Linked DNA regions of Homo sapiens: region 2 is linked to region 1. A link means that fine-mapping ties the variant in region 1 to the expression of a gene that starts in the linked region. Tissue or cell type: whole blood. Region 1 holds a variant in brackets; the other region holds the start of a gene. All regions are shown on one strand. Distances are between the middles of the regions.

Region 1 (8,188 bases):
TAGTCTATAAACCGTAAGCTTATACAATTTATATGTCATAAAGCCTTTACACATTTCTGTACCACTTAAAACAAAATGTTTTTCTTTTAAACTGCATAACACCAGTACACAGTACTGACACATACACCACAGATGCTCCTACTCCTCCTACCAATAAATGTTCAGCATTCAAATACCTTTTAATGTGCTTTGGGGGGTAGTTTTAATCTTTCTTCAGGGCTTGAAAAATCAAAGTTACTCAAGAAGTCAGAGAAGGGTGTGTGTGTGTGCGTGCGCACGCCCGTAAGCCATATCCTAATCCCAAATGTGGCAAGAACCTAACTTCCAGAGTGGAATTAAAAATCAATACCAAGCAGTGGAAGAGACAAAACTGTATCCATAATACTGTCAGATAACAAATGAAATCTATACAGCATCTTTCTTAGAAATAAAATTTCAAGCTTCAATTCCATCACAGTCACACAACATAGAAGCCGCAGTATAAAAAAAAATGTATGAGATAGACTGAAGGGTAAAAAATGACAGGAAAACACAGAGTAGACTTTGACATATCTCTAATTACTGCTTCGTTTCAGACTAATGGTAAAAATTAGTCTTCAGATAGCTGATAACATCAGACTGTCTGTGCTGAGTTAGTACCAAGATCTGTGGCCAAGCAAATACTTCCAATAAAATTGATTTTCCTTTTTGGCAACCAATAGGCCAGTCAATAATAATGTTGTTTAAGAAATATAGAGTCATGAGGAGATGAACCTTTCCTTCCATTTATTATGTTTGTATTGTCTATATTTGAAAAGCGTTTTCAATAACAAAACCAAAGAAGATATTACAAGCAAAAGAGTTATTCTGAGCGCTAATCTCCAGAAGCCCTCTGACTTCGAAGCATGTTAGCAACTCAAACTGGAAAAGCCAAAAGCAACCCATTAACTAAAGTTAGATTGTATAGATTATGACTGTCAAAAGAGAATCAAAGCTGGTGGCTACACACAATGGTCATGTGAATACAAAGGAAAACATTGTGGCAGGCATATAATTCTAACAGATCCGTCCTAAAAACCTACACGGAACTTTTACTTTGCATTAAAGCTTAGTGTTTAGTAAAGAATGTTCTATAAAGCCACCTATAGTTTTTGGATTGTTTGTCTCACACTATCCAAACAAATAGAACGTAAGAAATCCGCAAGGCAAAAACCTCAGGCAATGCCTAACTTGGGGATATTTCCATATACAATACCTCCAAACAATGTGTTTGGTTCAAAAAACTGTTTTGTTGTTTTTTAGAGACAGGGTCTTATGCTCTGTCACCCAGGATGGAATGCAGTGGCACAATCATAGTTCACTGTAACCTCAAACTCCTGGGCTCAAGTGATCCTCCCACCACAGCCTCCAGAGTAGTTAGGACTACAGGCACCCACCACTACATCTAATTAAAAAAAAATGTGTGGAGATGGGGTCTCACTATGTTGCCCAGGCTGGTCTCAAACTCCTGGCCTCAAGTGATCCTCCTGACTCAGCCCCCTAAAGTGCTAGAATTACAGGCATGAGCCATCACATCTGGCCAGTTTTTTTTTTTTTCTTTGTTGTTTTAATTTAGTGGTAATAGTGGTTGGGGAAAGCTGGATGTTGAAAAAATGACTTTGAAATTTACACAGAAAAATAAATGAGCAAAAATAGTAGAAAGTATTTTGAATGAGTAGTGAAGGAATTTGCCCAACCGGATTTAAAAATATATTTTGAAGCTATAATACTTAAAACAGTGTAGCACAAATACATGAACAGAAAACCAGAGCAATGGAATGGAAGAACAAGCCCCCAAGATAGACTGAAATACATAAAAGAATTGAGACTATGGTAAGACAGTTCAAATTGCTATAGAAAAGATACCAATTATTCCATAAACATTACTGGAACTGGCTAGTCATCTGGACAAAAATAAAGTTGGCACCATCTGGACAAAAGTAAAATTCCTATTACATACATAGGATACATATATCAATTATAGATGAGTTGATAAAAACCACGAAATAATGAAAGTACTAGAAGAAAATGTGGGGGAAAATTTAAACAACTATATCACAAAGAAAGTGCAAATTTTCCTTACTATATAAAAAGTTCCTGTAAGGAGAAAAATACCATCAATACAATGGGAAACTGAGGAAAAGCTATATTAAAAATATAATATACCATTCATCATTCATCAAACAGGCAGAGAACAAAAAGTGTTATGATAAACTATTTGGCATGGCTAGAGAAACAGGAATTCTCTCACACACTGCTGGTGGAAGTATAAATTGTTACAGTCCATTTACATGGTACTAGTTAACTAAATTATGATACATTCTCCTGGGAACTGGTTGGATGATGGTGCCAATTATGGTGAGTAGTGGGCGGGGAAGGGTGGACTGTTGAAGGATGCTGGTGTTTAGTGTTAGATATTGTGCGTTTGAAGTGTCTGAGGGATATCAAAGAAGAGATATGTGTGTCTGGAGCTACTGGCTGAGATCTGGGTTGGTGATAAACATTTATTCTACTTTCTCTGTGAAATAGGAGGTATTCTGAAGATAAAGACCAGAAGATTTGGTAGTCAAATTTAATGATGATATTACCATGATTTATGGTAACACCAGTGTTGTGTGATTTTTTTTTATTTTTATTTTTAGCTTTTTCCAGAACCTAAGTGTAAAAAGACAAAGATGCCTATGTTACCACTTCTATTCAACCTAGTACTGAAAGGCCCAGCCGGAGCAATTAGGCAAGAAAATGAAATAAAAGGTACCCAAATCAGTCATTAGGATGTCTATTGTCAAAAGCACAGAAAACAACAAGTGTGGACAAGGATGCGGAGAAATTTGAATATCTGTGTATTACTGGTGGGAATGTAAAATGGTGCAGCTACTGTGGGAAACAATATGGCAATTCCTCAAAAAATTAAACGTAGAATTATCATATGATCAAGCTATTCTATTTCTAGGGTATATACTCAAAAGAAGTGAAAGCAGGGACTTGAACAGACATTTGTACACCCATGTTCACAGCATCCTTATTCATAATCGCCAAAAGGTAAAAGCAAACCAAGTGCCACAGATATTGGAATAAACAAAGTATGGTAAATACATACAAATAATATTCGGCTTTAAAAGGGAAGGAAATTTTGACACATGCAACCACATGGATGAACCTTGATGATGTTATGCTGAGTGAAATAAGCCAGTCAAAAAGGGACAAATATTGTATGATTCCACTTATATGAGGTACCTAGAGTAGTCAAATTCACAGAAATAGAAAGTAGAATGGTAGTTGCCAGGGGCTGAGGGAATGGAGGAATGGGAAATTAGTGTTTAATGGTTAGAGTTTCAGTTGGGGGAGATGAAAAAGTTCTGGAGATGGGTGCTGGTGATGGGCACACACAATACAAATGTATTTAATGCCACATAACTATACACTTAAAATTGTTAAAATGGTAAATTTTATGCTATGAGTATTTTACCACAATAAAAAAGAGGAAGAAAACCAAAACCTTAGGTTCTGGAAAGGGGTAAATTTTAATGACCTTGGATTTGGCAATGGTTTCTAAAGTATGACACCATAAACAAAAGGAAAAAAGAGAAAACAAATGATAGAGTTCATCAAAATTTACAACCTGTGCATCAAAAGACACCATCAAGAAAATAAAGAGAAAACCCACAAAAAGGGAGAAGACACTTGCAAATCATGTATCTGATAAGGGTCTAGTATCCAGAATATATAAAGCACTCCTACAACTCAACAACAAAAAGACAAATCACTTTAAAATGGGCAAAGACTTAAACAGACATTTCTCCAGAAAAGATATGCAAATAGTCAACAAGCGTATGAAAAGGTACTCCATATCATTAGTCATTAGGGAAATGTAAATCAAAATTATACCATGATGAGATATCACTTCATACCCACTAAAATAGTTATTTTTAAAAAAGCAAAAATAACAAGTATTGGTGAGGATGTGGTGAAACTGGAAGCATCATACACAGCTGCTGGGCATGAAAAATGGTGTAGCTCCTATGGAAAACAGTTTGTCAGTTGCTCAAAAAGTTAAACATCAAATTACCATATGACCCAGTAACTCCACTCCTATGTCTACAACCAAAAGAACTGACAACAGGTATTCAAATAAAAATACAAGGACACAAATGTTCACAGTGGCATTATTCACAACTGCCAAAAGACAGAAACAACTCAAGCTGCCCATCAATTGATTAATGGATAAACAACATTTGGGATATCCAAAAAATTCAGCCATAAAAAGGAATGAGGTATTGTTACATGTTACAATATAGATACACCTTCAAAACTTTATGCTAAGTAAAAGAAGTCAAACACAACCATAAATTTTAAGATTCCCATTTATATAAAATATCCAGAATAGGCAAATCTATAGAAACAGAAAGCAGATTAGTGGTTGCCAAGGTCTGGGGCAAGGGGAGAAATAAAAAAAATGTTAAAAAGTGACTGCTTAGTGGGAACAGGGTTTTCTTTTGC[G/C]GTGACAACAGTATTACGGAACTATATAGTAGCAATGATTACACAACATTGTGAAATGTACTAAACGCCACTGAATTGCACATTTCAAAAGAGTTAATCTGGTAAATTTTATGTTATGCGAATTATACTTCAATTTAAAAAATAAAAGCTCTTCTTTATCACTCTTACCTGACAGTTAATGTCAGCTCTATGTTGCAGCAACACTGTGACTAGTTCCTTATGTCCTCGATCACAGGCCCAGTGAAGTAGAGCCCTACCCTAAAAACACAGAAGATAAATGAATTTGTTATCTCAGTTGTGGAGCCATGTAAAAGATATAATGTTTTAAGAAAGACAAGGAAATATAAAAAATTATGGGTTAATTATTCTAAGAATGATTGATATAAAAAATGCACTATGGAAAAAGCAATAAACAATCAATGGGGCAGGGCATGGTGGCTCATGCCTGTAATCCCAGCACTTTGAAAGGCCGAGGTGGGTGGATCACTTGAGGTCAAGAGTTCGAGACCAGCCTGGCCAACATGGTGAAACCCTGTCTCTGCTAAAAATACAAAAATTAGCTGGGCATGGTGATGGGTGCTTGTAATCCCAGCTACTTGGGAGGATGAGGCAGGAGAATCGCTTGAACTCGGGAGGCGGAGGTTGCAGTGGGCCGAGATTGTACCACTGCACTCCAGCCTGGGTGACAGGGCAAAACTCCATCTCAAAAACTACAACAACAACAACAACAACAACAACAACAACAATGAAAACAATCAATAGGAAGCCCCAATATCTACTTCTGGGTCTGTACTAGCCCAATGCCTGCTTTCAGCTCAATCAGTTCACTTACAGAGTGGAGATAATGATAGTAATAACAACAATAATATAAATAATACCTGCTAAATGAACTGTAAGAAAATGCTTTGTAAACTGTACTTTAAATATAAAGTATAGTTTTCTTAAATATTATGTCCATTTCTTTTTTTCTGGAAAGAAATCATAAGAATAAAAAAGCAAGCACTTAAACCTAGGTAGAAATCATAATCTAAATGTATGATAACTAAATTTCCTCGAGTTCATTCCTTAAAAAGATTATTTAACCAGTTTGAAAATAAGCATTTCTCCTTACTATTGCAAGTTTACACTCTGAAATACCTCAAAAACACTAGTACAATCTATCAGTGTCTATCACCAAACAGTTGACTGTGAAAGCCACTTGTAAAAGAGAATGGATGACTAAATATTAGGAGATAAAGTACTAAATATGAAATATTAATTTTAACACTTGTCTACCAAAGACTCACAGTTACTATTACGTGTGTTATTTCTATTCTCTACTGCCAGAAAATCTTGTTTTAGTTAATGAAAAAAAGCCTACTTGGTTCAAAAGAATAAACAAAACCCCAAAAGCTAAGGGCTTTTCTGAATAAATGAGTGATGCATGGCTTACTACTTTCTGAGGATGGTGATGATGTTGTCATTTATAAAGAATGGAATGTTTTTCCACATTAAGTTGACATCCCTACTTTATGTGATTTTAGAAAAGATTTAAATAGATATAAGCTAGGGCAAGGATTGATTTAAAGTAAAAAGCACCTTTCAAGAAATAGCTTTTCTAAAACTGCCTACATTCTTTTTATCATTCAGACTTTCTTCACATACCTATTATTTCAAATAATTAAACTAGGATCTATTCTTTAAACAAAAAACAAAGTAGGAAAACTTCTTCCCTACAAATTGTCTTCTTCTTTTGCTTTCATTTGCTTGATTTACTTTTATTTACCTGTAAATATCTGTTTTCTAATAAGCTTACACAAAATCCTAAGAGGGGGGAAAGCAGAGAAAAAGTGTGGTCAAATCATTCACAATTTATTGTAGTATCAAAATAAAAAAAATTTATTTTGCCTTGTTCAGAGCCCACTAGGAGTTATTTTTTATTTATTTATTTATTTATTTTGAGACGGAGTTTTGCTCTTTTGCTGAGGCTGGAGTGCAGTGGCGGGATCTCCGCTTACTGCAACCTCTGCCTTCCGGTTTCAAGCAGTTCTGCCTCAGCCTCCCAAATAGCTGGGATTACAGGGACCCGCCACCATGCCCAGCTAATTTTTGTATTTCTTTTTAGTAGAGATGGGGTTTCACCATGTTGGCCAGGCTGGTCTCGAACTCCTGACCTTGTGATCCACCTGCCTTGGCCTCCCAAAGTGCTGGGATTACAGGCGTGAGCCACCACGCCCAGCCAGAAGTTATTTTTCAGTGGAGACAATTCTAAAAGTCCAGGTGAAAATGTATTGTTGAGTTCTAGAGCAGTTTCCTATGTTAAAATTTTTGTAGCTCTAATGTGACCTGCTGTTACTAGGGCTCTAATTCAGAAATCCTCCATATGAACAATTAGATATTTTAATGAGACTCTGAATAAATACTAATGAATAAAATATTCTACAGGTCCATGTTATTGTTTCACAGCATTTATTAATACATTAAAAGAATCAGACAAAATTTCAAAGTCTATCATTTTTAGTTCTAATTGTAAGTGTGCATTTTATGGCTATTAGGTTAAACTATTGACAAGAGTTATACATAGTTAAGACGATGTGTGATATATTTACATAGGGTACTTACAAAAACTATGTAATAGTTAAGTAGGACAACATAATATGTCTTGTACTTTTACCATAAGATGTATAGATAATTTCTATCTCTCAGCCACGTTCCTGAATTTTCCTTAGGTTTGACCCAATAGGGTTATATCAACTAAAGCTAAAATGTAAATCCTTAGCTGTTTCAATGGTAAAGCTGACAAGCAACACATTTTACTGTTAATGGGAGTTATATTTTAAATTTCCCATATTTTAAATTTTCCATGTGATGCCAAAAATTTACTTTAGGGGAAACACCTATGACTGGACCTCCATAGTGATTTTCACTTTGGATATATTTTCCAGAAGCGGGGCACATGTATAGCAATGTTTTAAGAAGGATGATGTGCTCTCAGACATTTACACCATACTTTTTAACACATTTTCTGACCTGCAATGCAATTAATTCTTGTAACACATTATTTTAATGGTACACTAATTAACCTTGAATTAGAATGAATTCTCTGACAATGACTTTCTGTAGAAGCACTGAAGATATCTACATTAAGACCACCTAATGATTAATATTCCATGCAGTATTAAAAAGCTCAAAAACAAGAGTAGGATTAAACATACTTGTAAATAAACACAGACAAAACAAATCAGGCTTTGGAATTTTAACCTTCAAGATGCTCTATATTTAAATGAACAAAAACCAGCAAAATGAGGTGTCTGTGATACCTTTTACTTCTTCAAATTATAAAATTCCTATAAACATGCTCTAATTTAAGATTATTATTCACTCACTAACATAACCAGTAATTTGCAGAGATGCTATCCTTATAATTAATCATGATAAAATCAGGAAATAAACACCTGTGGTTTCTTTCCTTTCTCTTTGTTAACCACAAACACACCTAGACCACTACAATTATTAAACTATTTTAGGTAAAGAATTCCAAAATCTCTCCTCCAGAAGGAAAACCATGACTTAGGTGTGCATTAAAGCTATATCTTCTAAGACTTTATCTAAATTTATGAACTATTTTACATATTTGTCTATATAATTGTTTTATCTTTTTCCATGAGTGATATAATCTCTTATAAATTTT
Region 2 (8,188 bases), 110 kb after region 1:
CTCATCAAAAAAAGTTTTTAAGTACTGGGAAGCTGTCAAGCTCATGGTGGCAGATATAGATTTTCCAAATTTCTCATTTTCACTTGAAGGTTCAAATGTTATTACTGGCAACAAACACTTTGAGTTGTTTTCCTTGAAGTGACAGGCTTATTTCGTTCATTTTTAAGAAACTACCTGCCAAATACCCAAATTTGAGTAGGTATAATTATCTGTGAGTTGTTCTGTTAAGTAAAATTGGAAAAGAATATAGTTCATTTTGCGACTCAGAAATTACACAAGTGCTTTTCCTCAAAATAGTTAACATAATTCAGTATGCAGCAGAAGTACTTTGTGTGTACTTCCCATCTCATCACACAAAATGTAAGACTTGACTCAAGGGTTAATATTTAATAAAGTAGTATTAAGGCACGGTGGCTCATGCCTGTAATCCCAGCACTTTGGGAGGCCAAGGCAGGTGGATCACCTGAGATCAGGAGACCAGCCTGGTCAACCATGGCCAACATGGTGAAACCCCATCTCTACTAAAAATACAAAAATCAATCAGGTGCGGTGGCAGACACCTGTAATCACAGCTACTCGGGAAGCTGAGGCAAGAGAATAGCTTGAACCTAGGAGGCGGAGGTTGTAGTGAGCCCAGATTACGCCACTGCATTCCAGCCTGGATGACAGAGCAAAACTGTCTCAAAAAAAAAAAAAAAAGTATTATTAAACAGTATCTTATGAAGTCAACAGGAATTCACAAATTTTCATTACTCTCCAGTTTTCACAGCTGTCAATTAGCTATCTTTAGGAGGGAGAGTGTAGGCTGATGTAAAGAAGGACCAAAAAATTGTTCATTCGATTTTGTTAAAACTTTATTAAAAGATTATTCTGAAGCCATAGGCTTATCTGAGACTAATAAAGCTATGATGCTAAGTTTAGAGTTCTCCCTGAGAAAATAAGGTTCATATTTCAGCTTATTTTTATTATCTTCCTGCCAACAACCTCATCCAGCCTACAAAATAGGGTGCTATTCTGAATACAAAACGTTATTTTATAAATTTTGATCCAATATGCAGAAATGATATTGGACTTCCAACTTTATTATTCTATCAAAGATGCTATTCTTAACACTATCTCACAATTTTGTCAAAAATATTTAGGAGATTGATGAAAACTGCGGCCCAGTGTCATATATAAGTAAGCATATTATTCTCTAACAATGCAGAATTTTATTTTCAGATACAGAATATCTCTAAACACCATAAAGTCAAGTTCTTGAAAGGATGAGGGACATCCCTCCTTCATATTATCTGGATGAAGTGAGTATACCTGAGACAAAATGGTTCCCAAGTCGATAGGTGACTACAGTTCACTGATGACTTAGAAATATAGTATTTTAATAATGACACCAATATCAATAAACAAAGATATGTCCTAGAACGAAAAATAATATTTTCTAGGGAATTTGGGGAAAATTAGTCTCATACTGCCCAGAGAATCATCAGACATATTACAGGTCCTAAAATATGATTCTCAGTAAATATTTGTTAAATAATCAAAAGTTTCACTCTAATGTTATTAGGACAAAGTATAACAAATGACCAAAGAGAAAACAGATATCTACAACTTTTCCAAGAAAGCTAATTCCAAGGCCAATTTGGAGGTAATTTTCATTCGACACTATAATTTATACCATTTGTTCCTACAGCTTTCTCTCTCAGGTCACATTAACTGATATTCATAATAATGACCATCAACCTTCAAAACAAGGTTCATTTTTACTCAGTACATCCAGTTTAAGAACACAGTGGGGCTGGGCATGCGGGATCATGTCTGTAATAACAGTACTTCAGGAGGCGTAAGCAGGAGGATCGCTTGAAGCCAGAAGCTTCAAGGCTGCAGTGAGCTATGAGTGTGTAACTGCCCTCCAGCCTGAGCAACGAAACAAGATCCTGTCTCTAAAAAAACTTTTTTAGTTAAAAAAAAAAAAAAAAGAACACAGCAGGACCTCTCCCCCAACTTATTTTTCCTTTAACAAATACAGGGGAAAATACGTAACTATGTCAAGAGGCAAAAAGAAAAAAAGTTTACACATTTTTAATAAAACAAAATAGGCTATTATCCAGAATTTCCTTTCCTCTAGTGTTTCAAAGAGCTGTAATTTTCCTGAACTGTTATTTAACTCTTGTCAGCAATTTTTCAGGTATGTTCAAACCTAGACTCCTCAAGTACTTTAAGTCTCTTAAAGCAAATGTTGGCGGGGCGTGGTGGCTCACACCTGTAATCCCAGCACTTTGGGAGGCCAAGGCAGGCAGATCACCTAAGGTCAGGAGTTCAAGACCAGCCTGGCGAACATGATGAAACCCCGTCTCTTCTAAAAATACAAGAAATTAGTTGGGCATGGCGGCAGGCACCTGTAATCCCAGCTACTCGGGAGGCTGGGACAGGACAATCGCTTGAACCGGGGAGGTAGAGGTTGCAGTGAGCTAAGATCCAGCCACTGCACTCCAGCCTGGGCAACAGGAGCAAAACTCCATCTCAAAAAAAAAAAAAAAAAAGTGTCAGCCAGGTGCAGTGGCTCATGCCTGTAATCCCAGCACTTTGGGCAGGTGGATCGTCTGAGCTCAGGAGTTCAAGACCAGCCTGGGAAATGTGGTGAAACCCAGACCCTCTGTAAAAAAAAAAAAAAAAAAAAAAAGTGAGTGTCATGATGTTTTTGCTTCTCTGCAAAGTGTCATGATGTTTTTGCTTCTCTGCATTCTCTGTAGGCATTATACCCAAGTGTCTTGCACATAAAAGCTGCTGAACAAATATATGTTGCTTATGATAAAGCAATTATTTTCCTTCTGGTACCAACCAATGTCACCCTGAATTATAAATTAAACGTGTCTATACACCTCCCTATTTCCAGGTAAAGTTCACAGCCTTAGACTGAGTCAGGAGCTACAATCCAGTTCTGACTGATGTATTTGTATGACCCTAGGAAAGGTGCCTACTCTCTATGGCCTTCAGTTTCCTTTACTGTAAAAGAAGGGCATTATTTCCTCTGGTGTTCATAGCTCTAAAATTTTTAGATTGTATCAAACAGAAAGGAAGACATACTCAACGAAAACATAAATCAAAGATATTTAGGATTTTATAAAAATCACAATAAAAGTTGTAATACTGCATTTTGCATTGCATCACATTATTATTATTATTATTATTTGAGGTGGAGTTTCTTCGCTCTTGTTGCCCAGGCTGGAGTGCAATGGCGCACAATCTTCGCTCACCGCAACCTCCGCCTCCTCAGCCTCCCGAGTAGCTGGGATTACAGGCATGCGCCACCACGCTCGGCTAACTTAGTAGAGACGGGGTTTCTCCATGTTGGTCAGGCTGGTCTCCAACTCCCGACCTCAGGTGATCCTCCCGCCTCGGCCTCCCAAAGTGCTGGGATTACAGCCGTGAGCAACCACGCCCAGCCCTGCATCACATTATTACAATCCTATTATCTTTTTGGATCTCTATATAGTTTTATTAACTTTACCGTATTTACTTCCATGTGGCCCTCTGGGAAAGAGTAAATGAATGATATATCTTATTTTATCCTCATTTTGTAAAGGTTCTTGGGCTGGTAAAATGCAAGATCACTGAATAAGTCAGAGAAAAAAACACAAAAACAATGTCCAGTGTCCAGCTAAATAAACATCACTCCTAAGAAAGCAAACATCTTTTCCACGTTCAGGATGATGCTCATCCCCAGCAGATGGTCAAAAAAAAAAAAACAAAACAAAATACACATACACAAGCTTCATTACACCTAGCTATTAACCATACATGCTTGCTATCAGTTGTTGAGGAAGAAGGCTCCGTGTCTTTCTCCCCCATCCACCCTCTCCCTGCTACTTTACCTGTTTGTACCTGGCATACAGGTACAAGAGCTGCTCCCTGCTGGCCACCTGAATCAGGCCTTGCAGGTGCGCGGCAGCCTTCTCAAACAGCTCGGCCAGGCAACTGGTCTCCTCGATCTCAGGGCTATGGGGGAACTCCACCTCCCCGGAGTCGTCCCCTGAGCTCAGCTCTCCACCGCTGTCGCCGGTGATGGCCCCCGCGGGCAGGAATGATGAAGCCATGTCTCCTTGCTCGCTCCGTCCCTCTGTGTCCGGTCTGTCCTCCTTGGATTGGGTGTAAGGCCGGCTTGGAGGCCTGGCCCACCAGTCTGGGTCGCGAGCCTGAGCTCCAGTCGGACCCAAGCTCAGTCGCGGCGCGCTCCCTCACGTGACCCTGCTCCCTGCCCACTTCTACTCCCTGGGCGTGCAGAGCAGGCTCCTCGACCCTCTGCCGCTCTGCCCAGTCGACCCGGTCTCCTCCGGCTTCCCTCCGGCCAACAGCGCGCTCAGGCTCGCCTCAGGCCCCTCCAACGGAACAGGAGTCGAGGGGCAGTGAGGCCGGGATGCGTGCGAGCGCGGGGCGCGGCTGGCGCTGGGCCGTGGGGGCGGGGCGGCGTGCGTGCCAGCGGCGTGCGATTCTGTGAGGCCTGCTCTGCGCCGGCGGGGAAGCGCGGGCGACGCTACGCTGGACGTCCTTCCCTGCCGGAGGAGAGAAAGTGCCGTCAGCTGTAGGGGCGTCTTTTAATCGTTTCGCTGAAATTAGCAGTCCCGAGCTCCGGAGCCCGCCACCGGGATGGGCCCCCGGGGGTGGGGGAAGGAGGCCGTTTGTGTGGTAGTGTAGCGGTGAGAGCGGAGTCGCGGGAAACGCGAGGCTGAGGACTAAGGTTCCGCCTGCCCCAGATTGTGCGCCCCAAGCGCCTCCAAACAGCCCTGCGCGCGGATCTGTTGCGTGCGCGTTGGGCTCTGTGTTGAATAATGAAAAACTGCGAGATGGGGCTGTCCCGTCTTACTGTGTGACTGATGAGTGGAATCACTGCTCTGCGTGTTTCGCTCTCCACACCTTCGGAGCCCGCACCTCTCCGGGCCCTGAATAATAGGGTTTGGGGAGTTCGGGGCGCGCCTTAGCCCAGTTCTCATCCCGAGCTCTGTCTTTGACACTGTGCTTTGTAGACACTGTACAGTGAAACCAGAAGTACGGCACAGTTCGGCCCTAGAGGAATGCACAAAACTATTTTTTTAACTGTAACATTATGAGTGGTTATGTCCTAAATGTTAAACACAACGACGCACTATATATTCATTTAGTATTCAAAACAATGTAATAAGCACTATAAGAAGGGTACAAAGAAAGTGTTGTAAACAGTGGTTATTGACTGGGGTTAGGCTTGCGACGGGTGGACGGACGGCTGGACAGGATGAGGAAGCAATGAGAGAACACAGGAAGGTGAGAAAGCTTGCATCAGGATTCAACAGACATTCCTTAAGTCTCCAGAAAGTTCCACTGTTAGTCCCTGCTGTCAAGGTGCTCGCAATCCAGTCAAAGGGATGTTTAATGACCAAATTCTTGCAATTAAAAAGTGATTAAGAATAATGTATTGAGGACTTGATCATTACAACATAAGGTAGGTACTCTTATTTTACTACACATAGGAAATCAGCACAGAGTGGTTAAGTAACTTGTCAAAGGCTACACAGCTAGCAAATGGAGGAGCAAGGAAAAAGAAGTTAGCTTTCATGTGGGGTAATAATGGATGATGAACCCGACAAGTAGACTGAAGGAGATATAACATGGACTTTTATATCTTTGTTTCTAGAATTTTTATTAAAGTGAGAATTGAATATTATCAACGGCTTTTTTGGCATCTTTGGAGATTATCTGCTTTTCTCCTCTAGTCTTCGAAAGGAATTATATTAACAGTTTCTATTTTAATGAATTATATTAACAAAAATAAATTTGGGATTTAATGAATTATATAATAGCTAACATTGATAAATTAGTATGCATTATTTCAAAACCTCCTAGTTTTGAGCATTACTTCTGTTCTTGGAATAAACCCATTCTGGTCCTGGTTTGGTTTTTTTAAAAAATTTGTAGGTTCAGTTTGCTAATATTTTCATTATCTTTACAGTTCCATTTAAAGATGTCATTAACCTATAGTTTTCCTTTTCTATACTTTCTCAATTTTGTATCAAGGTAATAGAATCCTTGTAGAATGCATTTAGAAGTTTTCATCTTTTTCTGTATTCTGGAAGAGTTTACATAACATGGGAAAGAGAGCAACCAGAATTCTTTTACACTGCTGGTGTGAGCATAAATTGGTACAATCACTGTGGAAAAATGTTTGGCACTATCTACTAAAGCTGAACATAAATATACAACAATTCGACTCCTCCCCAGCGGGAATATATACATGGCATTCACCAAAAACATGTACGAGAACATTCATAGCAGCACTATGAACTAATTCCTAATTGCTCCAAACTGGAAGCTCCTGAATGTCCATCAACACTAGAATGGAGATAAACTGGTGTGCTTACATGATGGAATACTATTCATCAGTGAGAATGAACTAATTACAATGACACAGAATAACATGAATGAATCTCAAACATAATGTTGAGTATAAGCCTATACTCAAAAAAGTGCATATTACATGTTTCTAGTCATAAAAAATTCAAAATCAGGCAAAACTAATCTGTGGTGTTAGACTCAGGATAGTGGGTAACCTCAGGGTTAGTGATCTGAAGGGTGCATGAAGGGGACTTCTGGAAGTTGGATATGTTGTTTCTTAAGCCGAACATTAGTACACTGATGTGTTCACTTTATGAAAATTCATTTATAATTTATGTACTTTTCTGTATGTATATTTGAATGAAAAATGTATTATAAAACTAAAATGTAAGAAAGAAAAAGGAAAGAGTCCTTAACATTGAGAAGCTGGCCTGACACTCACAGCTAGGCCTTGTTATTCTCCTATTGAAGAGAAATAATCTCACAAAATAGCAACTGCAGACAAGGTCACTCTGAAATCATGATACAATGATACAAAGCAAACCACTTCATTAAGCTTTTCTAAGCACAGACAAAAAGCTCACTTTACTGACTACAAAATACAACACCTTTTTCTTGGCCCAAACAAATAACTACTACTACTTTAAAATTGCAGCTTTATTCTCATGCTAGCCACTTCTCTATAGATAAGACTGAGATGCCCAAGATCTCAATCTTGTTACAGTAGGTAGCTAGTCAGGAATGAGCAGGGCAGGAGAGGGCTCCGCACCACACGCACATATCAGGAATGTCGGGCAACCATCAGGTGATGGTCAAGCGGTTGTTAACTGTCTCACTAAAATAATAATTGATCACAGCTGGCACCAGGGAACAGCAGGCTCCTGATAGAAAACACCTGAAACTAGTGATCAGCAGCTTCCCGATAAGATCTCAGGAGTGGGGCGAGTGGGCTCAAGCATGTGCATGCGGACAGCCCACCCCAAGGGAAGAATCGGGGAGAAGTAATGCAAGACCGCAGAAGTAAGCCAATATATAAAACCCCAAGGCCAGGCACACAGTGGCTCATGCCTGTAATCCCAGCACTTTGCAGGGCCAAGACGGGCGGATCATCTGAGGTCAGGAGTTTGAGACCAGCCTGGCCAACATGGTGAAACCCTGTCTCTACTAAAAATACAAAACAAAACAAAACAAAACAAAAAAAACAAAAAAAACAGAATTAACTACTCAGGAGGCTGAGGCACAAGAATTGCTTGAACCTGGGAGGTGGAGGGTGCAAGCCAAGATCGCGCTACTACACTCCAGCCTAGGCAACAGAGCAAGAATCTGTCTCAAGACAAACAAAAACAAACCCTGAGTCAAAATATCAAGCTGTGTACTTGCCTTTCAAGTTGCCTGTTTGGCTTTCTTCCAAGCATACTTTCCTTCTTTTTATTCCTGCTCTAAAGCTTTTTAATAAACTTTTACTGCTGCTCTAAAACTTGCCTGGGTCTCTCCTTCTGCCTATGTCCATCAGTTGAATACTTTATTCGGAGGAGGCCAGAATTGAGGGTGCTGCAGACCCCAAGGGATTCACCACTGGTATTACTATTTTGAAGTCGTGTGACTCAGATACGTTTCCCTGCTGACACAATCATAGACTTCCCCCAGCTTTCTGACTGCATCCAATTGAGAGCATATTCCCGCTTCCTTAGATGCTCTCCCAAATCACCACAAAGCCCAAATCGTATAATAGGTTCTTTCTTAACACCCTTTTACCGAGGCAGCCCATTCTTCCTCAAGGTGTGTGTTCTTCCTCACTGCAACCAGAAATAATTCCAACTTGGTT

The links. PIP is the estimated chance that this variant, and not a neighbour inherited with it, causes the effect.
Region 2: it holds the start of ACBD6, and the variant in region 1 is fine-mapped to the expression of ACBD6 in whole blood (TOPMed, PIP above 0.99).

Annotation. Positions count from the first base shown.
Region 1 is chr1:180,392,830-180,401,017 of GRCh38, forward strand. It overlaps ACBD6 (acyl-CoA binding domain containing 6), which reads right to left. Exons shown (of 8, transcript NM_032360.4): 6 at 4,687-4,776. Among named protein-coding and RNA genes, the nearest start is that of MIR3121, 41 kb to the right of the region's middle. The variant G/C (reference allele first, on the strand shown) is at 4,519.
Region 2 is chr1:180,498,173-180,506,360 of GRCh38, forward strand. It overlaps ACBD6 (acyl-CoA binding domain containing 6), which reads right to left and starts at 4,405. Exons shown (of 8, transcript NM_032360.4): 1 at 3,873-4,405. The coding sequence starts at 4,094. RefSeq lists enhancers at 2,812-3,327, 3,328-3,843, 3,951-4,451, 3,973-4,162 and a silencer at 4,373-4,472.